Linked DNA regions of Homo sapiens: all the other regions are linked to region 1. The links come from fine-mapping of genetic effects on gene expression. A gene starts in region 1. Each other region holds a variant in brackets. All regions are shown on one strand. Distances are from middle to middle. Region 1 holds the start of RMDN1 (regulator of microtubule dynamics 1). Region 2 overlaps WWP1-AS1 (WWP1 antisense RNA 1). Region 3 overlaps RMDN1 (regulator of microtubule dynamics 1). Region 4 overlaps PSKH2 (protein serine kinase H2). Region 5 overlaps WWP1 (WW domain containing E3 ubiquitin protein ligase 1).

The links. PIP is the estimated chance that this variant, and not a neighbour inherited with it, causes the effect.
Region 2: its variant is fine-mapped to the expression of RMDN1 in whole blood (INTERVAL, PIP above 0.99).
Region 3: its variant is fine-mapped to the expression of RMDN1 in thyroid (GTEx, PIP above 0.99).
Region 4: its variant is fine-mapped to the expression of RMDN1 in whole blood (INTERVAL, PIP above 0.99).
Region 5: its variant is fine-mapped to the expression of RMDN1 in neutrophils (CEDAR, PIP 0.94).

The regions. Positions count from the first base shown.
Region 1 is chr8:86,506,682-86,511,790 of GRCh38, reverse strand. RMDN1 (regulator of microtubule dynamics 1) reads left to right here and starts at 3,105. Exons shown (of 10, transcript NM_016033.3): 1 at 3,105-3,299; 2 at 4,679-4,796. The coding sequence starts at 3,171. It also overlaps the pseudogene SLC2A3P4. RefSeq lists an enhancer at 3,191-3,360.
Region 2 is chr8:86,337,102-86,342,210 of GRCh38, reverse strand. It overlaps WWP1-AS1 (WWP1 antisense RNA 1), which reads left to right. Exons shown (of 6, transcript XR_007060994.1): 4 at 3,824-3,945. Among named protein-coding and RNA genes, the nearest start is that of WWP1, 2.9 kb to the left of the region's middle. The variant T/A (reference allele first, on the strand shown) is at 2,796.
Region 3 is chr8:86,475,870-86,480,978 of GRCh38, reverse strand. It overlaps RMDN1 (regulator of microtubule dynamics 1), which reads left to right. Exons shown (of 10, transcript NM_016033.3): 6 at 647-702; 7 at 1,969-2,056; 8 at 3,655-3,685. Among named protein-coding and RNA genes, the nearest start is that of RMDN1, 30 kb to the left of the region's middle. The variant T/G (reference allele first, on the strand shown) is at 3,029.
Region 4 is chr8:86,055,704-86,060,812 of GRCh38, reverse strand. All of the region lies in intron 2 of PSKH2 (protein serine kinase H2), which reads left to right. Among named protein-coding and RNA genes, the nearest start is that of PSKH2, 11 kb to the left of the region's middle. The variant T/G (reference allele first, on the strand shown) is at 2,108.
Region 5 is chr8:86,427,964-86,433,072 of GRCh38, reverse strand. WWP1 (WW domain containing E3 ubiquitin protein ligase 1) reads right to left here. Exons shown (of 25, transcript NM_007013.4): 12 at 2,322-2,376; 13 at 1,583-1,667; 14 at 1,330-1,458. Among named protein-coding and RNA genes, the nearest start is that of RMDN1, 78 kb to the left of the region's middle. The variant T/C (reference allele first, on the strand shown) is at 2,244.

The DNA of each region.
Region 1 (5,109 bases):
GCCAGGCTGGGATGCAGTGGTGCGAATACGATTCACCACAGCTTCAACCTCTCAGGCTTTAGCCTGAGGCGATCCTCCCACCTCAGCCAGTAGCTGGGACCTACAGGCACGAGCCACCGTGTCTGGCTAATTTTTGTACTTTTTGTAGAGATGCGGTTTCACCATGTTGCCCAGGCTGGTGTCAAACTCCTGAGCTCAAGAAATCCACTGGCCTTGGCCTCTCAAAGTGCTGGGATTACAGGCATGAGGCACCACGCCCAGCCTTAGTCTCAGAGCTTTGAATTCCATCTATATTTTCTCTCTCTTTTTTTTTTCTTTGAGACGGAGTCTAGCTCTGTCACCAGGCTGGAGTGCAGTGGTGCGATCTCGGCTCACTGCAAGCTCCACTTCCTGGGTTCACGCCATTCTCCTGACTCAGCCTCCTGAGTAGCTGGGACTACAGGCACCCGCCACCACACCCGGCTAATTTTTTGTATTTTTAGTAGAGACGGGGTTTCACTGTGTTAGCCAGGATGGTCTTGATCTCCTGACCTCGTGATCTGCCCGCTTTGGCCTCCCAAAGTGCTGGGATTACAGGCGTGAGCCACCGTGCCCGAACTTCTTTAATTTTCTTTTCTTTTTTTTTTAAAGACGGTGTCTCACTCTGTTGCCTGGACTGGAGTGCAGTGGTGTGATCACCGCTCCCTGCAACCTTGGACACTTGGGCTCAAATGATCCTCCCAGCTCATCCTCCTGAGTAGCTGGGACTACAGCATGCACCACTACATGCAGCAAATTAAAAAACAAAAACAAAAACAAAAAACAAACAACAACAAGAAAAACATGTTTTTGTAGAGACAGAGTCTCACTGTGTTGCCCAGGCTGGTCTCAAACATCCTGGGCTCAAGCTGTTCTCCCGATTTGGCCTCCCAAAATATTGGGATTACAGGTGTGAGCCACTACGCCCAGCCTATATTCTTAAGGTTATCAAACTTCCACACCTTTCCTCTGAAACTCCACACTCCAACTCTCTATGCTTTACTTGGCTGTTATATTAGTTATCAGTTGCTGTGTAACAGATTACATCAAATTTAGTGGCTTAAAACAGGAACAATCATTTATTATCTGTCATAGCTTCTGTGGTTTAGGAATTTAGAAGTGGCTTAGCTGGGTGCTTCTGGCTCATCATCTCTCTTGATGTTGCAGTCAGATATTGGCCAAGGCTGCAATCATCTGATGGCCTGACGGGCTGAAGGAGTTCTTCAGCCCAAAAGTTCAATTGTGCCAAGGCTGAGAAACCCTGCTTTAAACCGATGGGACTATACATTTAAAAAATACTAATGTCGTGAAAGACCAAGGCTGACGATTTAAAGATTTAAAGAAAGTAGAAACATAACAAATGCAAGACATTATCAAGATTTGATCTTGAATTTAGAAAAAAAAATCATTAGTATAAAGGACAGTATTGGGAATTAAACAAAATTTGTATATTAAATAATAGTATTCTGTCAATTTCAGTTTCCTGAATTTGATAATTAAACTGGGACTAAGTAAGGGAATGTCTTGTTTCTAAGACTGAAGAGTCATGATATCTGTAATCTACTCTCAAAAGGCCTTACAACAGAAAATACTAGGAATATAATATGTGTATTATAGGTAAGATATGTAAAGAAAGATAAAGCAAATGTGAGAAAAAGGTAACAATGGCTGAATCTAGCTGAAGAATATATGGGAGTTCCTGCAACTTTTCTTAGGATCTAATTTTTTTTTCAAAGCTAAAAACTTAATTACAAATTCACTCTAGCAGAGATATCAGAAACTTAATTTCACTGTTATCATGGTATCCAGTGGCATAAACATTTAGCAATGTTGAGGGGGTAGCTGCCAGTAGAAATGCATAAAATAAAAGTGATTCTGTCTTTGGGAAAAAACAGCTAGGTTTCAGAAGTTGGGAAGGAGATCTATATATTTTTAAAGATAGACTTTAAAGACATAATCCTAAAGAAATACAGCTGATTTAATGGGACTAGTGGAGGTAGCAATCATATAGTAGAAGGAGCACTGGACTCAGAGTAGAAAGACATGGATTCCTGTCTTCTAACATATCCTTGGTTAGGTTAATACATCTCTTTGAGTTACAGTTTTTTCATTTGTAAACCTGGGATACCACTTACTTCACAAGGTAGTTCGGAAGATCAATACGACTATGTATTAATTCCCTATACAGTATTAAAAGTACCATAGAAATGCAACCTAATTTTTTAAAACCATGACTCGCCTCCCTTATTACCCATAAGATTTTTCGTTAAACCCATATAGTAGGTACTCCCTTTGCAGTCTGTGTTTCCACCCACCCTGATCAGGCCTCAAGTAGGATCCAAAATTTCTTCATTTTCCCACAAAAGAATTCCACTCGAGCAAGAAATTTTATTTTACTCGAGTAAAATAAAATACTTTGCTCGAGTAAGTAAAACATCTTATTGAAGAATTTTAGGGGAGACCAGGGTTTGTTTTTGTTTCTGTTTTTTACTACACATGCCCTAGCATTCAAGGGCATCAGTATCCTTTCCAGAGGCCTCCTCCCGCTAGTTCCTCTTCCCAAAACGCTTTGCATTTTTTGTTTCTTTGCTCTGGACTCTCTCTTGAATCTACCCCCTTGAGTCGCTCAGTCGAAGAGACTGAGACTTTCCCTTCTTCATGTTGGGCAACATAATTCTTCCAATTATTTACTTCCAAAAAAGACCCACTAGTACCAAGATTCAATCTACTTTTGAAGGCAGCAGATAATTAAAATGACAATTTTTTTTCTGGCATACTTGTATTCTCGGGTCTATTTCCGAGCTTTCAGTTCTATTCTGGCGACGAATCCTTGTGCCCAAACCATGAAAGACCCCCTAGAGAGATGGAGCAGAAACAAGTCAGAGCGCCTGAAGAGAGCGCTCTCACGGCCTCAGTCCTGGACGCAGGCGCGGAAAGTCCATTAAGTCCCACCCAATCGGGGTATTTCCCACCCCCTAAGCCCGTGCACCGGAAACCATGGGGGCGGAAGAGGTGCTGGGCAGGAGGCGGAAGAGGTGCTGTGCAGGAGGCGGGCGGGCGCGGTTCTTTCCGGAAGGATTGAATCTCCTTTAGCCCCGCCCGCCTCCGTAGCTGCCTGAAGTAGTGCAGGGTCAGCCCGCAAGTTGCAGGTCATGGCGCTGGCTGCTCGACTGTGGCGCCTTCTGCCTTTCCGACGTGGAGCCGCCCCGGGGTCTCGTCTCCCTGCGGGGACTTCGGGCAGCCGCGGGCATTGCGGCCCCTGTCGATTCCGCGGCTTCGAGGTACCCCCGTGGTCCTGGCTCCCGCTCCTCACTTCCTACTCAGTGGGTTCCGGCTCCCCCTTAACTTAAGTGGTGGCGGCCCCGCGCTGCCTAAGGAATGTGGTGAACCGAGGAAAGAACTCGGGGCCACTGTGCCTGGAACGCCCGGACAGGTCCCTTCCATTTTGCAAACCTCCACTATCCTTAACTGGGGCTGTCAGAGAAGGAGTGGGGTTTGCCCCCACGCGCCCCAGAAGCTGCCTGCTACCCGCCCTTCTTGTGCGAAATGTAAAACAGGACGGGAAAGAACCTTGACCGCTGTGAAATTATTCTCCCTGTAGGCGATGACAGATACAACAGCGCTTGAGGCTGCCCCTTTCAGACTTTGAAAAGTGTGGTGTGTGATTTAAAAAGTTCTACGACTCAGAAGCAGAGATTTCATACTGTTTAGGTTTTTGTTTAAAAATGTTTATTTCTCAGTTGCCCGTTGTATCTGCATAACGTCAATGAAGGTTGTCGGCATGTTGTAGTCTCAGTTCTGGTATTTCTATTAGACTGCTCGTGGGCCTCTGTTTATTCTTGTCAGGGAATTGGAATGGCATTAATGCATATGATATATTTCACATGAACTAGGGGTTTCATTATTTTAAACTCAAATTTTTAACTGCTCAGTTAAAATCTTTCAGAATTATTATGGGACTGATGGTGGGGAGGGGTGGTTAAAATTTGGCATATTCCCCTTCCTTGGAAGTTTATAACCAAATGGGGAGGTTATAGATAATATAGGCAGAGAGATGGGAGGAGTTCTAAGTATGAAACTAGTTAGCCGTAAGTTTTCAAATTGGAACAATGATGAGTTTGAAGTCCCATTTTAGGCCTGGCCCCTTGGCTCAGCCTGTAATCCCAGCACTTTGGGAAGCCGAGGCGGAAGGATTGCTTGAGTCCAGGGGTTTGAAACCAGCCTGGGCAACACAGTGAGACCCTGTCTCTACAAAAAAATTTAAAAGTTAGCCATGTACATTTTTATATGTAGTAATTACTATATATGATAATCTTGTCTGTAAGATTCATTTTTATTATGTGTTGGTGTCTCATATTTTACTTCATACAATTTGCAATATCCATGCATTTGCAAATAAGTTGTAGCAAATAAGTTGTAGCTCTTCCTTTCCAGCAGGAGTGTGATTTTTAGATGAGCGGCGACTCCAGGGGATATCTTTTTCTCAATAAGATACGCTTTGAGATAGTTTTACTAAAGATTTTGATGAAGTAATTTTTAAGCTTCCAGTATTATGATCGATTGCTTTGGGGGTGGGAGAAAATTCATGTAATTTTTGCTTGGGGTAGCAGTACCTTCAAATTTTCAAAGTTTGTAACTCTTAACATAATTGTTTCCATAGGTAATGGGAAACCCAGGAACTTTCAAAAGAGGCCTTTTACTCTCAGCTTTGTCGTATTTGGGTTTTGAAACTTACCAGGTTATCTCTCAGGCTGCTGTGGTTCATGCCACAGCCAAAGGTAAGCATAAATTAGATATATGGAACATTTAGAGTTTTTTTGTGTGCGTACATTCAGAATTTTTATTTTAAAACAAAGAATCAGGGTAATGTTAATAATAGAAAATCCATATGGAAATATTCACAATCTGCTCAGTGAGAAATGGGAAAACAACTTCCCTGCCTAACTGCCAACCTACTGTTTGAGGAGCCAGAAGTTGACGTGAAGTTGGAAGAAGGTCACCTTTTCCAGCTAAACCCCACTCCATAGCTATGTGCATTTTTATTTGAAGTCTCCGTGACCAGAGGAAACAGTGAGAACTGAGAACCAAGAT
Region 2 (5,109 bases), 170 kb after region 1:
AGCCATTGGTCATACCCGAAGACTTTCAGTCCATTTTTTATTAATCAAAACGTTCATCTGTGGAAGCCCCACCACCTAGTCCTCACTCACATCAGCCCGGTGATAAAGCAGATACTTATTGACCGAGTATACGTGTCCGCACAATTAACGCACACAACAATCTGACAAAGTAGTGTCTACTGTCTGCATTTTACAGAAAAGTCAACTAGTTTAGAAAAGTACTGTTGGTTATGTGTATTGCTTTTAGAAGAAAGGCCAATGTGCAAATAGAAGTCAGTGGGACCACATTGCTTACCAGGTGACCCGGTTTCTACTTCAGAGAAGCAGAAGCCTTCAGGCATGGATTTCTACAGCTTTTGCCCAACCACCTGACCAACCCCCATAGATTATATCTACGTCCACACCCAGACTTACTAGTTTTCCTTCTATCTCGGAGGCTAGATGTCCCTGCTCCTCTCCACTGCCTGCTCCCCACTGTGGGCGGTCCTTGGCACATCTTTAACTTCACCCTCTCCACTGCCTACAACTCCTCAGCATAATCACGTTTTAAGATTAGGTCCTAAATTTTCCCTTGATTTTAAAACCTCTGGTTCTCTCTCCCCTTCCATTTTAACTGAGCTTTTTGAAAGAACTGTGTACCAAAAACAACCCCAACACTTCATGAGTGTGTACAGAATTCAACAAGTATCTCTTGACTGAACAATGCACATTCCCGCCTACCTCCATGCATTAGTTCTTGTCCTCTGGCTTCATAGTTGAAATTGGTGCACATTATATCCACAAAGATCATTCGAAAATATACATCTGTGTCATTCCACTGCTTAAAATCATTCTTTGGCTTTTCGGAGCTCTCCTGACAAAGATTAACGTGATATTCAAGGTTCCTTTGATGCTCACATGCTCTATCTCTCCTGTTATGAAAAACTCTTCACAGTGCCCCATATGTGCCCACTCATCTCTGCTTTAAACATGTACTAAGATTTTCTTCATCTTTTTGCTTTTGCTGTCTGGTCCCTTTAAATAGATGCAATAATGTGCTTACAAACACGTCCTCAGAAATTCCGTAGGTATTCCCCAGCAGGGATCTGGACTCCTTCTCCAGAATGCATGCAGGCCTCCTCTTCCTGCTCTGTGTCTCACTTTCAGCTCCCCTCATTGCTCAATTTCCTCCCCGTTCAGAAGCTCTTAGTACTCACCTAGTCCTCAAGCTGACACCCAATATTGAACCAGCCTTTTGTTATTGACTGTTTGGTTTCAAATGAACAATATTATAAATAGTATTCCATAACCATTGTTCATGTCCTTATTAACTGTCTTAGATAAATTATTAAAAGTAATAAAAAAGTATGAACAAGTTTAGCCCTTTTGAAACATATTGGCAACTACCTTCCAGAAAGAGCATAGGCTCAGGTATCACATCGCCCAGCATCAAAACACAGCTCTGCCACCCAGTGCCACATTCTGACTTTCACAGGCCCTAGGTGCTTATACCTGTGTGGGCCTCATCTTCCATAAAATAATACTACAAAATATATTTTATTACTGCATTGGTATGAAGAAAAAGATATTAACATTATACATTAAAATATTTTCTTTGACCTAAATATTCAATTTTTTGCCTTCTGATTTTAAAAGAAATTAAAACATTTTTATGGGCCCCCGAAAGTGTTATAAGCCTGAGGCACTGTGTCTACTGTGCCTAATGGATAACCTGACCCTCCTGCTGCCTATGAGCTGAGAGATTTGGCCAATTGCTTAATCTAATTGTGTCTCAACTAGAAAATTAATATAGTGCTTCCACATGTTGTATTAAAAAATATATATAAATTGCTATAAATAACACGCATAGAGCTACTTAACACATGAGCATGGCACATAATCAAGAAATGATTGTCATAATGGTTATCAATTTTCCCACAACACTACATGACAGTATGTGATTGTCCTTCTTCCATGTGCCCAAATCATCATGGTATGTTTTCATATGTGTATGTATGGTAGCTTATTGTTTGTCCTTTGTCCATTTTCTTACTGAGGTATTTCACAAAAGGGTGCTTCACACAATGTAGATATTAGTCCTTTGTAAAACTATTGATCTTTTCCATTTTTGTATTCTTCCATTGTTTTTTACTTCATACATCTTTCCCATCCTGAGATCATATAATTCATCTGTCTTTACTTTTTTCTACTTGTTTGACTATTTTACTTTTTTCATTAAATAATTTAATTTTCTTGGATTTATTTTGCAATGATAATCTAACTTTTATTCCTTTAAAAATAGCTCATGGTATTCCCCCAAACCATTTGTTTAAAAAATTGTTCTCTAACTGTAGTGGTTTTAAAATAGGTCTACAGGCCGGGCACTGTGGCTCACACCTGTAATCCCAACACTTTGAGAGCCCAAAGCAGGTGGATCACTTAAGGCCAGGTGTTTGATACCGGCCTGACCAACATGACAAACCCTGTGATATGGTTTGGCTGTGTCCCCACGCAAATCTCATCTTTTTTTTTTTTTTTTTGAGATGGAGTATTGCTCTGTCATCCAGGCTGGAGTGCAGTGGTGTGATCTTGGCTCACTGCAACCTCCACTCCTGGGTTCAAGTGATTCTCTTGCCTCAGCCTCCCGAGTAGTTGGGATTACAGGCACATGCTACCACACCTAGCTAATTTTTTTTTTAATTTTTAGTAGAGACGGGGTTTCACCATGTTGGCCAGGCTGATCTTGAACTCCTGATCTCAAGTGACCCTCCTGCCTCGACCTCCCAAAGTGCTGTGATTACAGGCATGAGCCACCA[T/A]CCCTAACCCTAATCTCGTCTTGAATTGTAGTTCCCATAATATCCACGTGTTGTGGGAGGGACCCAGTGTCAGGTAATTTAATCATGGGGGCGGTTACTCTCATGCTGTTCTGGTGATAGTGAGTGAGTTCTCACAAGATCTGATGGTTTTATAAGGGGCTTTTCCCCCTTTTGCTCAGCACTTCTCCTTGCTGCCACCATGTGAAGAAGGTTGTGCTTGCCTCCCCTTCTGCCATGATTGTAAGTTTCCTGAGGCCTCCCCAGCCATGCTGAACTATGAGTCAATTAAACCTCTTTCCTTTATAAATTACCCAGTCTCAAGTATGTCTCTATTAGCAGCATGAGAACAGACTAATACACCCTGTCTGTATTATATTTCCAAGAATAATTTTTTTAAATTTCTTAATAAAATATGTCTACAAATATTTTGATACTTCTGCCCTCAGAAAGTGAAGCCTAGCCAGGCACAGTGGTTCATGCCTGTAATCCCAGGACTTTGGGAGGCCAATGTGAGAAGATTGCTTGAGCCCAGGGGTTCGAGACCAGCATGGACAACGTAGTGAGACCTCATCTCTACTAAAAATCAAAAACTTATCTGGGCATGGTGGTGTGCACCTGTAATCCCAGCTACTCTGGAGGCTGAGGTGGGAGGGTCACTTGAGCCCAGGAAGTCAAGGCTGCAGTGAGTCATGAGTGCATCATGATTGCACTCCAGCCTGGGTAACAGAGTGAGAGCAAGACTCTGTCTCAAAAATAATAAAAACAAAAAACCAGGAGGCAGAGGTTGCAGTGAGCCAAGATGGCACCACTTCACTCCATCCTAGGCAACAGAGCAAGACTCCCTCTCAAAAAAAAATAAATAAATAAAATTAAAAAAAAATAAACCAGTGAGGCCTAATTCTCTTCCAAAAGGAATGTAGGCTGTAATTAGTGACTTGTTGTTAACAGATATAGCAAAAGTGACAGTGTGTCACTTCCAAGACCAGGCCATAAAAAGGCATCATGGAGCCCCTCCCACTCTCTTTCAGATCATTCTCAGTTGCCATATGGCAAAGACACAGGAAGCTGCCCTGTGTAGAGACCCACATGGCAAGGAACTGAGACATCCTGCCAACAACCACCAGAGTCTGAGGCCTGCTGCCATCACCACGTGAGTGAGACATCTTAGAAGTGGATCCTTCAGCCTAAGTCAAGCCTTCAGATGATTGCGTCTTGACTGCAGCCTCATCAAAGACCTTGAACCAGAACCACCCAACTCAGTTACTCTCAAATGCTTAACCCATAGAAACTATAGCGGTAAAATAAGTGCTTATTGTTTTAAGTCACTAAATTTGGGAGATAATTTATATCTATCCAGAAATAGATAACAAATACACTAATCCTGTTGTTCTCAACTTGGGACCATTTCATATCCCAGGGGATTTTGGCAATGGCTTACGACATTTTTCATGGGGGTAGGTTGGATGTTCCATTGGCATCTAGTGGGTAGATGTGACAGAGGGTGCTAAACATCCTACAGTGCACAAGACAGCCCCATCACTCCACTCAAAAAACAAGGAATGATCAGGTCCAAATGGCATTAATGCTGAAGCTGAGAAACTGCCCCAACCTATTTTCCCTTGCACTTTAAAAGTTTCCTATTTCACCTGTACTTGTGAAAGAGGTGGGGTTTGCTTCACTTCCATTACTCATTTGAATGCTGCTTCACTTGTTTCTTTTTTTTTTTTCTCTTTTTCTACTTTTATTTTAGGTTCAGGGAATACCTGTGCAGGTTTGTTGCATGTGTAAATTGCGTGTCACTGAGGCTTGGTGTACAAATGATCCTATCACCCAAGTGCTTGTTACTTAGCCCTCTTTAGTATTCTCCTCATTCTCATGCTCCCCTTCTGGTCAAAGCCCAAAACTCAGATAGCATAGAGAGCAGTGCCCCTTAGGACAATCTGCACTTCCTTAAGAATTCCTTTGAAGGAGTGAAATACCAACATGAGGCAGTCCTCTCCTCTTCTGATGTTCCCCTCTCCTGTTTACCTTCCTATAAGTACCGAACAAAGTAAGTAGGTATATCAGTCTTAAGGGCTTCCCATGCCATAAGATATAACTTAAAGCAGTTATATCTTATGAAGGAAATTATTTCTTGTGATGGTCTTTTTTAAAAACTATTTTTAGTAAAGACAGGGTTTCACCAAGTTGACCAGGCTGCTCTTGAACTCCTGACCTCAGGTGATCTGCCCACCTTGGCCTCCCAAAGTGCTGGGATTACAGGAGTGAGCCACCGCACCTGGCCTTTACTGATACTCTTTGTTTTTATTTTTAA
Region 3 (5,109 bases), 31 kb after region 1:
TTATATTCACATAGTAAATATAAATTAGGGAGATTCAACATATTTTACATTGCACATAATTATTCTATTAATATTCTATAAACTGTTTATTTTTCCTTTGGTAAGTACAGATGGGGAAGTTGAACAAAATCTGCATACAAGAAGACTTTCTAAAAATAGAAAAGACTTTCTAAAATCTGCATAGAAGAGACTTTCTAAAATTACATTTTTTCTAAAAAACTAAAATGCACTTTTCTTCTTTAGGAAAGAATGACTTTTATTCAGTATTCATCTACAGTTTGCCAAGAAAGTACTTCCTTATCCATTTTTCCTTTAATTTGGAAGAAACATTAAGAGCTATAGATTAATTTGCAAGATTAATTTGCAAAATTAATCCATTTATGTATTTCATGTTTTTTCTCATCTTGATAGACACTTACTATAAATGTCTGAACCATACAAAATAGTAACATTAGTATAAGTCATTAATAGTGTTTTGAAATGAATTTAATCAAAGAATCAGGAGGAAGAAAGTTGATATTATAATGGGAGAACTGAAACACACAGTTGCATTTTTTAAAAAATCATGGCTTCTTCAGCAAACACAGTAAAGCACTTATTGGTGTTTAGAAAACAAATATGATTTATTTTTCTCATTTCTTGTTAGAAAGCAATTGAACTGAACCCTAAAGATGCTACTTCAATTCACCTTATGGGTATTTGGTAAGAAAATTTCTTTAAATATTTCAGTAGTATTTAGTGTGATATTTTGTAGTATGTATAAATATCTTCTTTTGCATATATAAAAGATATTAAATATTTTAAAATATTATCTGACAGAGCTTAGAGTGCTAAATCCATTAACTAGCCCTTGTATATATATTGTTAGAACATACTAAATTTGATTATGACCATGTTAAACATTGTTATTCAGGTCATTTAGAAACATGTACAGACTGAAAAGACTATTCTTATTTACCATGCTAAATGAAATTAGATTAATGTAACTATAGTAAAACAGTAGAATGCCCCAAGAGGGTCTTTGTATCTTCAAAGTGTGTCAGATACAGTCTTGATTAATCTGAGGAACCATATAATCTGATTTTCAGTATCTTTCTATTTTTATGTGATCTTATGTCCACTGTAGATTATTATTTTGCTGGTATGAGGCTTTATCAAAGTGTTACGTACTTGATGGTTTAAGAGTCTGTTTTGAGATAGATGGGACACTCTTTTGAGTATAGCCTGCAGAGCTGAATATTTACTGCCATCTAAGAAGGGTACCAGTGTAAACTGTCCTGTATCAAACTCTTTTAAAAGAGAAATATATTCTTCAGGATAAAGGACATATTAAGCTAACACTCATTCACTGAGGATTAATGATAATTGAGGGGCAGTCACTAAGTCAGATGCTAGTAAGCAAACCCAAATGAAATAGCAATTTCTGCCTTAAGGACTTCAGACCCTAGTCAAAGATGCAACACTTTCTTTCCTACTTATTTCTGAAAGTTGTAAAGATCTTTGGAGGTTAATCATTTGCTTTGCTGCTTTAAAAATAGATTTAAGTTGTTGGTTGCTGTTATTTATACATTTGATGTTTAGCTTTGTCATTTTTCTTGTGTAAGGTTTAACTTCTCTGAGTTTTTCTTATAAGAAAAATAGGGGAAATTATCCTATCTCATATATAATTGTTACAAGGAATAAATGAGAGAATCAACCCACTACCTGGCACAATGCACTCAGTGGTAGATGTATATTATATTACTGTTATTAGTATGACTGCTTACTATTTATATTTAATCACAAAATACACCCCCCAGCTAAAGGATCACTATGTCAATCTCTGGATTACCTAGTAGATATCATGTAAAGCACAAGTTGTTTAAACATACAGTAGAAGATTCCTTTTATAGTATTAAGATGCTTAGTTAACTTTAAGAGAAAAGAAGGTACAATTTGAATGTATAAAATTGTTTTATTTCCCTGTAGGTGCTATACATTTGCCGAAATGCCTTGGTATCAAAGAAGAATTGCTAAAATGCTGTTTGCAACTCCTCCTAGTTCCACCTATGAGAAGGTAGTATGATGTCCTTTGTTAAGTTAGTACGGATTTCTTAACCACAGCGCCATTCTACCATGTGTTCACACATGTGGAGCTCTGATTCAGTGAGGGACTTGAGCAATTTCTAATGATCCAATTCAACTGTGTTATCACAAGGCTTAACACTTATTATCCTTGACTGGTGAGTGGTTTTCTTTTTCCCCGTTAGGTGAGTGGCTGGTAATTCTGGAATACTGTCATCTAAAATGGCTCGTGGCTAAAATCTACCTTCATTTTCTGTTTGAAATCTAAACTATATTGAAGTCATAAAATAGAACAAGAAATACAGCATCTGTTACCCAGCATGTTTTAGCTGTATTACACACAATAACAGAAAAGTAAAGCAGATGCTTAAGTTGATAAAAGAAGAACACTCATTATAACTTCTATTTTAAAAAGCATATGAAAGGTTCATATTCTCTCATATTTTCAAGGCCTTTTGCTTTTCTTGTTAAAAATAAGATTTGAGAGGAATTTCTGGTTAAACTTTGGGTTTACTCATCACAAGCTTTTCAGAGTAAGAAAACAGGCAATCGAAAAAGCTGTACTTGTATTATTTACATTATAACAAGGAGCTTTTTTTTCTTTCTGGGAAGCTATAGTGTAGAAATTGATGTAAAAAATACTTAGTTGTATTCTTTACACACAGTTGAGAAATATTATTAAAATAATGCACCAATATTTTATAATGGTATTATTAAAATAATGCCCATTTGCTGGACACGGTGGCTCATGCCTGTAATGCCAGCATTTTGGAAGGCCAAGGTTGGTGGATCAGTTGAGCCTGGGAGTTTGAGACCAGCCTGGGCAACGTGGCAAAACCTCTGCAAAAAAAATACAAAAATTAGCCAGGTGTGGTGGCCTGTGCCTGTAGTCCCAGTCACTCAGCTAAGCTGAGGGAGAAGGATCACTTGAGCCTGGGAGGTCAAGGCTGCAATAAACAGTGAT[T/G]GCGCTACAGCATTCCAGCCTGGGCAACAGAGTGAGACCTGGTTCTTTTTTTTTTTTTTTAAGACAGGTCATTTTAAGGACAAAAAATATAGTCAGCTCTACTTTATCAAATTAGTTATGTTTCTAGAAATCAAATGTCATTAGAGAATGCATTACAAAAACAGTAGCTTAAGTAGGACAAAAAGAGTTTCAGACTTAACATTGTATGTAGGAATTTCAATAATAATGGACTCTTAAAAATTCACTAGTACAACGAATAAATTCAGCTTTTGATTATATTTTGTTTTTACTAAAAATCACTAGTTATGATTTAAGAGAACTGTCAAAATAGCTGAGTTACACGTGATAATGTTCTTTCCTTTCTGCACATGATGTTAGTTTGGTACAAGTTCTAAACAGCAACCAAGTTATTACCAGAAGTAGTCCATATATTGTAATCTTGATGATTGAAGTGTTACGTTCACTTTGGGTGTTAACTCTCACTGTTGAAGAAGTGACCATTATTTTAAGATGATTTACTTCCTGACTTAAATATAATATAGCAGTAGATCTTTGAGACAATGCTTTTTTAATATTGTCTTCTTTAATCTTTTTTATTATGTTTGGGCTCTTTGTGTTTTTGACAGGCCTTAGGCTACTTTCACAGGGCAGAACAAGGTAAGGTATTTTTGATTACACATATTAATATAGTTAAAATTGTATGAATGCTGAATATATACTATAATAGCAATGTCTAAAGCAGTTGTTTATTCTGTTATACTTATTTTTGTGCTAGATACTGTAAAACAATTTTTAAAGTCTTTATTCAGTAAAGATCACCTGAATGAGAAATAGGCTGCTATTGAACTTAGAGCTGCAGTTCTGGAATGTCTATCATTTGATGTAATTCTGCTTCCTTTGTGAGAGCAGTCTCTGACATGGTAATTGTCTTATTCAAGACTGCACATATTGGCCAGATGTGGTGGCTAACACTTGTAATCCCAGCACTTTGGAAGGCCAAGGCAGAAGGATCACTTGAACCCAGGAGTTTGAGACCAGCCTGGGCAACATAGCGAGACCTCATCTCTACCAAAAAATAAAAATAAAAATTAGCCAGGTGTGGTAGCACACACCTGTAGTCCCAGCTACTCAGGAGGCTGAGGCAGGAAGGTCACTTGAGCCCAGGAGTTCCAGGCTACAATGAGCTGTGATTGCACCACTGCACTACAGCCTGGGCCACAGAGTGAGACTTGTCTGAAAAAAACAAAAAAAGATTATGCATCTCATTAGAGGCATTTAAATGGGAATTCTGCTATTCAGCCAGGCTAGTTCTATTGCAGATATTGTGAAAAAGAGTTTCGGGTTATGTTTGTTTTGAAAAAATGACTAGTCCTATGAAACTGCCACCAGCCCATCCTAAATTTATCCTTTTTAATATTCATACACCAAGTGGGGGAGATAAGAGACATAAGCATATGATACCAAATAGACCATAAAAACCATTGAAATATATTCTATAAAACTTAATCAGGAGAAGACATACCATGTTTATTAAATTTGAGATCCCACACATAATGGACTTGTTCATTTCATGATAACAGTTATCTTCTACAGAATTTTATCTGAATGTTTTATCTCTGTAATTCATCAATTCTGATTTATTCATTATTACCTTCACTGATACCCTCTCTTGATCATACTGTTTCACATATCATGAATATGAATCTAGGGATGACTTTTTTTAACAGATTTAAAAGTTAATTACAAAGTAAAAATATAGGACCTTAGAGACTTAAGGGTTGGGGGTGTTGAGAAAAACATGGTCCTACCCTCATGGAGCTAAAATAATCCCTGGTAACTTCAGTCATTCTTGAGTGACCTTACCTTATTTCTTTCTGGCCTATATTCAGTTCAGAGGCTCCTCTGATGCCCTTAGTATCTTTTATTTTTCCAGTGATACTTATCACTCAATACTATGAACATTTACATGTGTAAGACTGTACATTCTGAGAAGATGTGGACTTTGTCTTTTCTGGCTCACAATTGCACACTCATTACTTGGCACAATGCTTGGCAAATCTGTTGAATGACTGAGTAAATAG
Region 4 (5,109 bases), 450 kb after region 1:
CTGACAACATGCACCACAGAGGAGTGTGACTGCTTGTAATAAAGTACTAGATTTATATTATCTTGATTTCCCTCCCCATGTCTGTCAGGCACTCATGTCTAGCATATTAACATTTCTTTTGATATCATCAAGTGTCTTAGTCAGTGCAGGCTGCCATAATAAAATAACACAGGTTTGGTGGCTTAACTACTTCCCTAGAGGCCTCATCTCCAAACATAGCCACACTGGGGGTTAGGGCTCAACAGAGAATTTTGAGAGAATAAAATATTCAGTCCATAATACCAAGGAATCATATATCGGTAGACTCAGAAAAGTATATCATCATGTTTTCATTTGTCATCATATTACCATATATTTAGCGTCTATTGCCAAGTCTAGTAATTGCTAATTGTACCAATTTTATTTAAAACCAGGTGACCACTGTAGAGTAAAGGGAATTTTCCTTCCCCTTCTTCCGAATATAATTTGAATCTATAAGGCAAACTGACAATAGGCAGATCAACAGGAGAAAATGTATATAAATTTATTTCTGTGCACAGGAGCCACACAAAAGATGAGACTTAAAGAAGAGCCAAATGACTGAAGTTTTCATACTGTACAGAAAGGAACAGAGACTTGGAGTTTGGAGACAGGTTCTGGGAGGGGGAGGGGAGAAAAGGCATGGTGAGCAAAGGCTGTCTTGTTATGCAGATGAAATCTCTCAGGTAACAGCTCTCAGAAAGAATAGATGGAATCCAGTGGTGACAGTTTCCCTGTTGGAACTTTAATACTGTCAGATATTTTCTATGAGTTAATCTTTCCTAGTTTAGGATAAGGCTGATAATGGGTCTCAGAGAAATCCTGTTTGCATCCACTGTTTACTTCACTAATGTAGATTTCCTCTACAGATGCAAATCTTTTCCACAAAAGGACAGCTTTCAGAGCCACTGTTATGTCTGCAGCCCCTCTAAAGAGCCATCTCAAAATATGCCAAAGAAGTATATTTTGGTGGATATATTTTGGTTTCCCATATCGTCAAGTCTGGAAGCATAGATGTGGTAGACAGAATAATGGCCCACCAAAGATGTCCATGCCCTAATACCCAGAATCTGTGATTGCTACCTTATGTGATAAAAGAGAATTTGCAGATGTGATTAAGTTAAAACTCTTGAGATTGGGAGATTATTCTGGATAATCTTGGAGGCCCAATACGATCACAAGTTTCTTCATAGTAGGGAGACAAGAGGGTCAAAGCTAGAGAGAAGAGATATGACTATGGAAACAGGTTGAAATGATGTGCTTTTGAAGATGGAGAGAGGGGTCATGAGGCAAGGAATAAGGACAGTCTCTAGGAGCTGGAAAAAGCAAGGAATGCATTTTCCCCTAGAGCCTCTGGAAGGAACACAGCTCTGGTGACACTTTGATGTTAGCCTGTAAGACCCATTTTAGACTTCTGATTTGCAGAACTGTAAAATAATAATTCGCCTTTTTTCAGAAAGGTTTTCTTTTGCCTATAACTGAAATTCCAGATATGACACATTGTATAAATCACTTATTTTCCCCAGAATTCAGGTATAAACATCAAATTAAATAGGTTGGGCATTGTGGTGCACACCTGTAATCCCAAAACTTTGGGAGGCCAAGGCAGGAGGATTGCTTGAGCTCAGAAGTTCTAGACCTGCCTGAGCAACATTGCAAAACATTATGTCTACAAAAAATACAAAAAATTAGCCACACATAGTGATGTGTGCCTGTAGTCCCCGCTATTCTGGAGGCTGAGGTGGGCAGATTGCTTGAGCCTGGAAGGTCTAGGTTGCAGTGAGCTAAGATTGCAGCACTGCACTCCAGCCTGGGTGAAAGAGTGAGACCCTGTCTCAAAAAAATAAATAAAATAAAATAAAATAAATTGGATGAAAACTTCCAGAGATTTATGTGGTATACCTCTTATGGTGAAGGGGAGTGAGGTGTTTAATATAATACTAAATATTATACTAATATCTAACAGAGCCATACTCTAGCTCCACTCGTATATAAGTAAAAGTTAGCCATAATATTAATGTTTAACTTTTTTGGATTTTGTTGTGAAATATATTCTTTTTCATGAAATCTTCAATGATCATTCCACTTC[T/G]GTCATTCTTTCCCTTTTCCAAATACTGTTTAGAATTACGATTAATTTCATTTGTTCTAATTTAATCTGGTTGCTATAGGTTGCTGCTTTAAGACATTATAAGCTCCTTAAAGGCAGGGATACTACCATATTTTCTCTCTGCATTCAGTAAGACATCTAAAAGGAATAAGCATGGAGAATGCATTCAATTACAAATAAATTGCTTTTGAAAAATATTAAAAGATTCTGATTTATAACTGCATGAGTAAGTGTATCTCAGATATAACTGTTTTGAACACAGCATAGAATTTCTGACTTATAGTTAGGTAGATGATAATTAACATCCTTAGTTGCTGAGTTTATTAGGTCCATTCTGGAATAGGTAGGTGGTCTGAAAGGCTACATCTACTGTATTCACTGGGTTTTGCAGGGTAGGCATAGGAGTTCCTTTTTCTAGTTTTTTTCTGCAATGCTGGAGGAGCAGCCAGGGTAGACAGGTACAGCAGATGGTGGAGAAGGGATGGAAGAGAGCAAAGATTTCCTCCCCAGTGTGCAAGGAAGGCCTTCACTTATCTACTTGATTGCCAGTGCCATCACAATGGCTTTTGGATGGTGGCAGAGCTCGTGCTTGAGACGCTAAGTAAAGGACTCATTATGGAGACCATTTGAAGGCATCTTTATGTGGTCTTCACCCCTTCCTTCTGGTCAGGCCTTCCTCGTGCCAGAAATTTTGTTCAGCTCAGTGTCTCTGCTCTTAGGAGCCTCGTGGTCTTGGCTGAGAGACAAGTATGATTATATATCTCTTCAAATACAAGTGCTTTAATGTAAGTGGGAACAAAGCCTCAAAGTTCACAGGGGCAATGGAAGAAAATCTATCATTGCTTAGGAAAACTGGGTCAGGGTCCATGAAAAGGGCCACATTTGTGCTATCTTGCAGGAAGGGAAGGAGTTTCTGGAAGGAAGAAGATTCCAAATAGACAGAATATATGCAAAAGCACATAAAGGAATACATTGACTAGTAAAATGTAAAAACTTTAGGCCAGGAATGGTGGCTCATGCCTGTAATCCCAGCACTTTGGGAGGCTGAGGCGAGGTGGGCGGATCATAAGGCCAAGAGATCGAGACCATCCTGGCCAACATGGTGAAACCCCATCTCTACTAAAAATACAAAAATTAGCTGGGTGTGGTGGCGCGTGCCTGTAGTCCCAGTTACTCAGGAAGCTAAGGCAGGAGAATCGCTTGAACCCGGGAGGTGGAGGTTGCAGTGAGCTGAGATCGGGCCACTGCACTCCAGCCACTGCACTCCAGCCTGGTGACAGATTAAGACTCTGTCTCAAAAAAACAAAAACAAAAACAAAAACAAATGAAAACAAACAAACAAAAAAAAACTTTAGAGCTCAGATGCATGCATTTGTGTGTATGTGTGTGTGTGTGTGTGTGTACATGCATGCATATTAAGTATTTTGAAAAACTGTATAATATAATAATTAAGAACACGATCTGGGCCAGGCATGGTGGCTTATATTTATAATCCCAGTGCTTTGGGAGGCTGAAGTGGGAGGATCACCCGAGCCCAAGAGTTCAAGGCCAGCCTGGGCAACATAACAAGACCCCATCTCTACCAAAAACATTTTTTAAAAATTAGGTGGGCATGGTGACATGTGCCTATAGTCCTAGCCACTTGAGAGGCTGAGGCAAGAGGATCATAGCTGCAGCGAGCTATGATCACACCACTGCACTCCAGTCTTCTGGGTAACAGAGTGAGACCTTCTCTCTAAGCAACAACAACAACAACAACAAACAAACCAAAAAAAAAAAAAAACTCCAACTACCTGGAACAAGACTGGCTGGATTCCACTACCAGCTCTGCAATTTACTAACTGTGTAACTTTGGACATTTAAAAGTTTTTTCTGTATCTCAGTTTCTGCATTTGTGAAATGGTAATCATGGTGGTACCTACCTAAAAGGGTTGTTGTGAAGATCAAATAAGCTAATAGATGTAGGTGCTGAGACTATTTTCATATGCTAGTATATACAGAGTTAGTGCTGTATATATGTTCATTATTTTTGTTATTGTTACTATTAACTTGGGAGACTAGGACTGAAAGTTTGAATTTTGCCTAAGTAAGTTATTAGTTTTATGGCTTTTTTTCTGCAGTACAAACTTCATTTATCAAGTGCACCTTTTAAATCTTTTACATGGAATAGTGAAGAAAGGTTAGTGTTAGAATTTTAATATTAATGATAAATTACAAGAATTCTCATCAATGAGTTGTGAATCATATATTCTTGTCTAATTATATTCCACTGTATCACAGTCATCTTTTTTTGGTGAGCAATGCATTGATTTTAAAAAAAGGAGAATTATAACCATATTAGCTAGCTGACGAGGACAGACACTGATATTAAAAACATTTTTTTCTTTTTTGAGAGACAAGGTCTCACTCTGTCACCCAGGAGGCTAGAGTGCAGTGGCGTGATCATAGCTCAGTGCAGCCCCAAACTCCCTGGGCTTTGGCAATCTTCTCACCTCTGCTTTCTGAGTAGCTGGAACTACAGGTATGTGCCACGCACAGCTCATTTAAAAAAAAAAATCTTTTGTAGAGATAGGGTCTTGTTATGTTGCCCAGGCTGGTCTTGAACTCTTGGTCTCAAGTGATCCTTCTACCTTGGCCTCCTGAGTTGCAGGGATTACAGATGTGAACCACAGTGCCTGGCCTAAACACACACACACACACACACACAGACACACACATATATATGTATATATATTTTTAAATCCCACATGGATATTGATAGAAAATGGTCCCTATCTACTTAGGTTCACCTGTGATTCTCATACTGTTAGGAAATACTTTTGCTGATATTCTCTTTTAGAAGTAACATGTCTGTTTGATTATGCTCATTTTCACCAGCCATGATCCCAATTTTGTTATGTCTCCTTTTCTCCACTAACTTCTCTTATTCTCTTGTTCTCCATTCAGGTTATTAAGTAGGAAAAAAGGAAAGAAAAGCAGAACAT
Region 5 (5,109 bases), 79 kb after region 1:
AAACCAACGCCTGGATTAACAATGTGAAGATCATTGGTGCCCTTGCAAATTCAGTGTCAGGGGAACTTCCTTGGAGTTGGTTTAAAGGAGAAACTATGAACAGCAATACAGAGACAACCATGCAAGTAGCTTTCCTGTAAAGGGGAGCAATAAAAATGAACTGTGGGCTGGGTGTGATGGCTCACGCCTGTAATCCCAGCACTTTGGGAGGCCAAAGCAGGTGGATCGCCTGAGGTCAGGAGTCCGAGACCAGCCTGGCCAACATGGCGAAACCCCATCTCTACTGAAAATACAAAAATTAGCTGGGTGTGGTGGCGGGTGCCTGTAATCCCAGCTACTCAGGGGGCTGAGGCAGGAGAATCGCTTGAACCCAGGAGGTGGAGGTTGCAGTGAGCTGACATCGCATCATTGCACTCCAGCCTGGGCAACAGGAGCGAAAGTCCGTCTCAAAAAAAAAACAAAAAAATGAACTGCGATTGAACACATTGGTAAAGGGAAGAGTTGTAATTTCTTTTTTTTTTTGCTTTTTTTTTATATCTAGGAGAAATAACAGCTGATAAGAATAATTTTGTAGAGAAATAAAACCTGATAATGCAACACAAAGGTGATAACTGTTGGAGCAATTAAGTAGAAAAGTGGGGGTAGGAATCGAATGTACCAGCAGAGGGACGAGACTTTGATAATAACAATGACAGTTCATCTATAGGAACAGGAGGGAGGAGAGATGGTAGGAGACGGACAGATATGGTGGTACAACTTTGCAAAAGACCTTTTAGGATTGCTTCTATTTTCTTAGTTATGCAAAGACATGACACCTTAGAGTAAGAATGAAGGAGAGATCTGTCAACCGCTTAATTAAGGTATCTTTAAATCTGGAAAAATCATTTCACTGACCATCTCATTGCAGCAGTGTGATGTGGCAGTTAAGAGCACAGAGTCTAGACAGAGACTGACTGTCATCGTTAGAAACCAGCTCCATTACTTGCCTTATAACTTTGCACAGTTAGTTATGCTCCCTATACCTCTCCTCACTTGGTAAAGGGAAAAATAATAGTATCTACCTCAAGGGGTTATTGGAAGATAAAATGAGTTAATACCTATGAAGTACTTAGAACAATCCTCGGCACACAGTAATCACTACATAAATAGTTTACATGCTGCAAATCCATTGTCAAATGAGAGCAAAGACAGCTATACTAAGGTTTCACTTGTGTAGGTTTTCTTGAACCAAAAAGTAAAATGTTTTGCTAAACTTGAGGATAAATTAGAGACTAAATCTCATGTGCTCACTAAGCAATATTTAAAGGAGAACTTCAGGTTTTCACTCACACAGATGACTTCCCATTGCGAGGATCTTTGAATGTTGTTGTTCTTGTGTTATGATCAACAAAGTACCTTACACCTTCACGAGTATATCTAATTTCCCAGCCTTCTGGCAGGGGTTCTTCATTCTGTAAGCTAAAAGATAAAGTTAAAATCACAAGATGAACCTTTTCTAGGTACTAAAAATATCTCATTCAAGGTTGGTTGGTTCTACCTACTGATATATGCAAGACGACTTAAGGCTGCTGTATATACATACCCTTGAGTTCTTGGATCTTCCCACTGGGTTGTTTTTGTGTTATGATTCACAAAGTAAACCCTGTCTGTTGAATCCACTCTTTTTTCTGAAATATAAAGTGAGTATAATATTTAATAACTATTTAGGATCTATATATAAAATAAGGAACACATATAATTATATATAATATATATTATATATATAAAAACATATCAGGGATATATGTATCCCTTATATATTATAGAATATATTATATAGAATATAATATATATTATAGAGAATATAACATATATTATATTATAGAGAATATAATATATATTATATTATAGATAATTATGTAGAATATAATATATATTCTATAATATATAATTCTTTAATATATAATCTATTCTATATATTCTGTATATTATATATATAATACATATATATATCCCTTATAATATACATATATATATCCCTTATAATATATACATATATAATATACATATATATCCCTTATAATATATAATATATTTAATATGGATTATATATTCTATATAGTATACAGAATATATAACATTCTACAGAATATATAATATATAGAATATATAATCCATATTAAATATATTATATATTATAAGGGATATATATATGTTAAGGGACATATATAAGGGAGATATATATATATAAAATAAGGAACATA[T/C]ATATATATATATATATATATATATATATATGGAGAGATATATATCTCCCTTATAGATCATTAGCAAAAACAGCTTACCCCAGCCTGGTGGCAAAGGTCCATAAGGGTCATTTTCTGCAGCTAACATTGAAGCCTGATTGGAGAAAAGATTAGGGAGAGAAATAAAATAACAGTGTTTTAATATGAAAGTAGAAATAAGCCAAGCATGTGGCAGAATCACATTTTATAATAATTTTCTAAAAATATGATAAGGGGTTGGGCGCAGTGGCTCATGCCTGTAATCTCAGCACCTTGGGAGGGCAAGGTGGGAGGATTACTTAAGCCCAGGAGTTCAAGACCAGCCTGGAAGATCCTGTCTCTATAAAAAAAAATTTTTTTTTAATTAGCCAGATGTGTTGGCACATGCCTAAAGTCCCAGCTACTTGGAAGGCTGAAGTGGGAGGATCACTTGAGCCCAGGAGGTGGAGGCTACAGTGAACTGTGATCACACTACTACTGCACTCCAGCCTGCACAACAGAGCGAGAAGCTGTCTCAAAAATATATCTATATTATTATATAGACAGATAGATAGGTCCACATTATAAGGAAATATAGCAATTTCAAGACACAAAGTTCTTTGTTTTTTGAGACAGGATCTTCCTGCTCTATTACCCAGACTGGGGTGCAGTGGCGTGATCTCAGCTCACAGCAGCCTCTGCTTCCCGGGCTCAAGCAATCCTCCCACCTCAGCAACAACCGAGTAGCTAGGACTACAGATATGCGCCACCACACCCGGCTAATATTTGTATTTTTTGTAGAGACAAGGTTTTGCCATGTTTCTGAGGCTGGTCTCGAACTCCTAGGCTCAAGCGATCCACCCGCCTCAGCCTCCCACAGTGCTGGGATTACAGGTGTAAGCCACCGCTCCCAGCCAAGACACTAAGTTCATAAAATGTCACGAAGAGGAGACTATCAACTATCAAATTAATTATTAGTTTTTCGAAAATGATTTAAAAATAATACACTGGCATCAATACTTTACTCTCCCAGTCCTTCCATACTAATCTATAGAGGGAAGATGAAATGGGAGAAGAACATATAGGAAATTATGATGTTTAAATGAGGCAATATTATTTGTTTAAAAATAGAACAGTTATCACAATTTTCTTTAAAACAAATGCCCACTAATAAAACTAACACTCAACTCCAGTATCATTTATAGAAATAAACTTTTAATTAGTATCTTTTATATTTTCATACATACATAAAAACACATTTTTATGTATGCCTCCATTCTTATAACCTAGAAATATATTCTGAAGAAAATATAAGTATTCTATCAAGAATTCTATAATAATGACAAATATAAAAATCATTACCTGAAAAATAATTTCTTAAAGTATATGCATCTTGATGAATATAATCTTGTAACAGACCCAGTTAATTATACTCAATATTTATCTTCCACCTGTTCTTGAGAACCAAAACCCTGTTTTGTTGGAGGTAGAAACGTGGCCATAAAGATCATTCCATTCCCCCTTCCCTGCAGCTGAGTTGGTAGAGTGACCAATTCTGGCCAATGAGGTATAGGCAGAAGGCCATGGTGAGGGCATCCTTCGCTAAGTAAAAAAGGCAAGGGCTTGCAACAACAGAGCCATCTGCCCTTTCAATTCCTCTTTCTCTTTCTTCTTGCCTAGACTATGGATGTGAGGCCCATAGTGCAGAGTATATAAACGAAGTAACAGGCCTGAAGTGCGATATGGATGGCAGAGCAAAAGGGCAGAAAGAACCCGGGTCCTTGATGACACTACTGAGTCAATGCAGCACTTACACTTTTACCCCAGACTTGATGTTGTACTGAGATAATTAAACCTCAATGTGTTTAAGGAGATTCTATTACTTGCAAGATAACATTCTTCTGATACACATCTGTTACCTCATTCTGCCCTGTTCACCAAAGGTTTTCATGTGTACAGATAAGTCCAACCAAAAACAAAGCTATATGTATTACTTTTTATGGATGTATATAGCTATATATATTACTATATATACCACACGGTATAATTACTATATACAGCTAAATTATGGAACCTTACCACAGATTTCTGTACAAGTCATGGAAGAACCAGCAACTGAAGGCAGCAGGAAACGCTATGGAAACTAGGCTGCCCACTCCCTCCCTGCTAGCTACATATAACCAGGAGAGTAGGTCAACCTGCAAATGAGAACTTACTATTTAACCTCTGAAAAAAATGTGGTTGAAAGAGCCAGACTGCAGCAGGATTTTGGAGAAAGTTACTTACATTTTCTTTCTATGTCTCTTTCCTACTTCCTTTCTATCTGCTAGCTTCTATATTTTAGGTTTCTTCAAGTTGCCTCAAAACACTATCTGTAGTTGTCCAGTACTTAAAATTTATCTTTTCTACCTCCTATGATCACACCATTTATCAGAGGAGTTTTGTTTTGTTTTTTCCACTCCTCTCACGGATGTTTGCTTATGGCAATAAGTAAATCACCAATTGGTCAAATTTTCAGACAGCATTAGATTTTTTGGATAAAACTTTCGAGTTCTAGAAATATCTTTGATGGAGCAAAACAGATGAGTGTTGCTTCTTAGAATCTGGGAAGAGAATCAGAATAGGTAGCATACTGCAAGACTGGCTCTAAGTAAAATAATAAAGTAACTGGTTTTGTTGAAAGCAAACAAAATTTATAAAAGTGGAAGATTGAAAATTAGTAAAAATATTATTTTGTTAAGAAATGCATTTATGAAACTACCCCGTAGGATATAAAACTTAATGTATAAGTTATGTTAGTAAACTAGAATATTTTAAAATATTATAAAGTACTTATATATATCAGAAACACTATTTATTAAAGATTAAC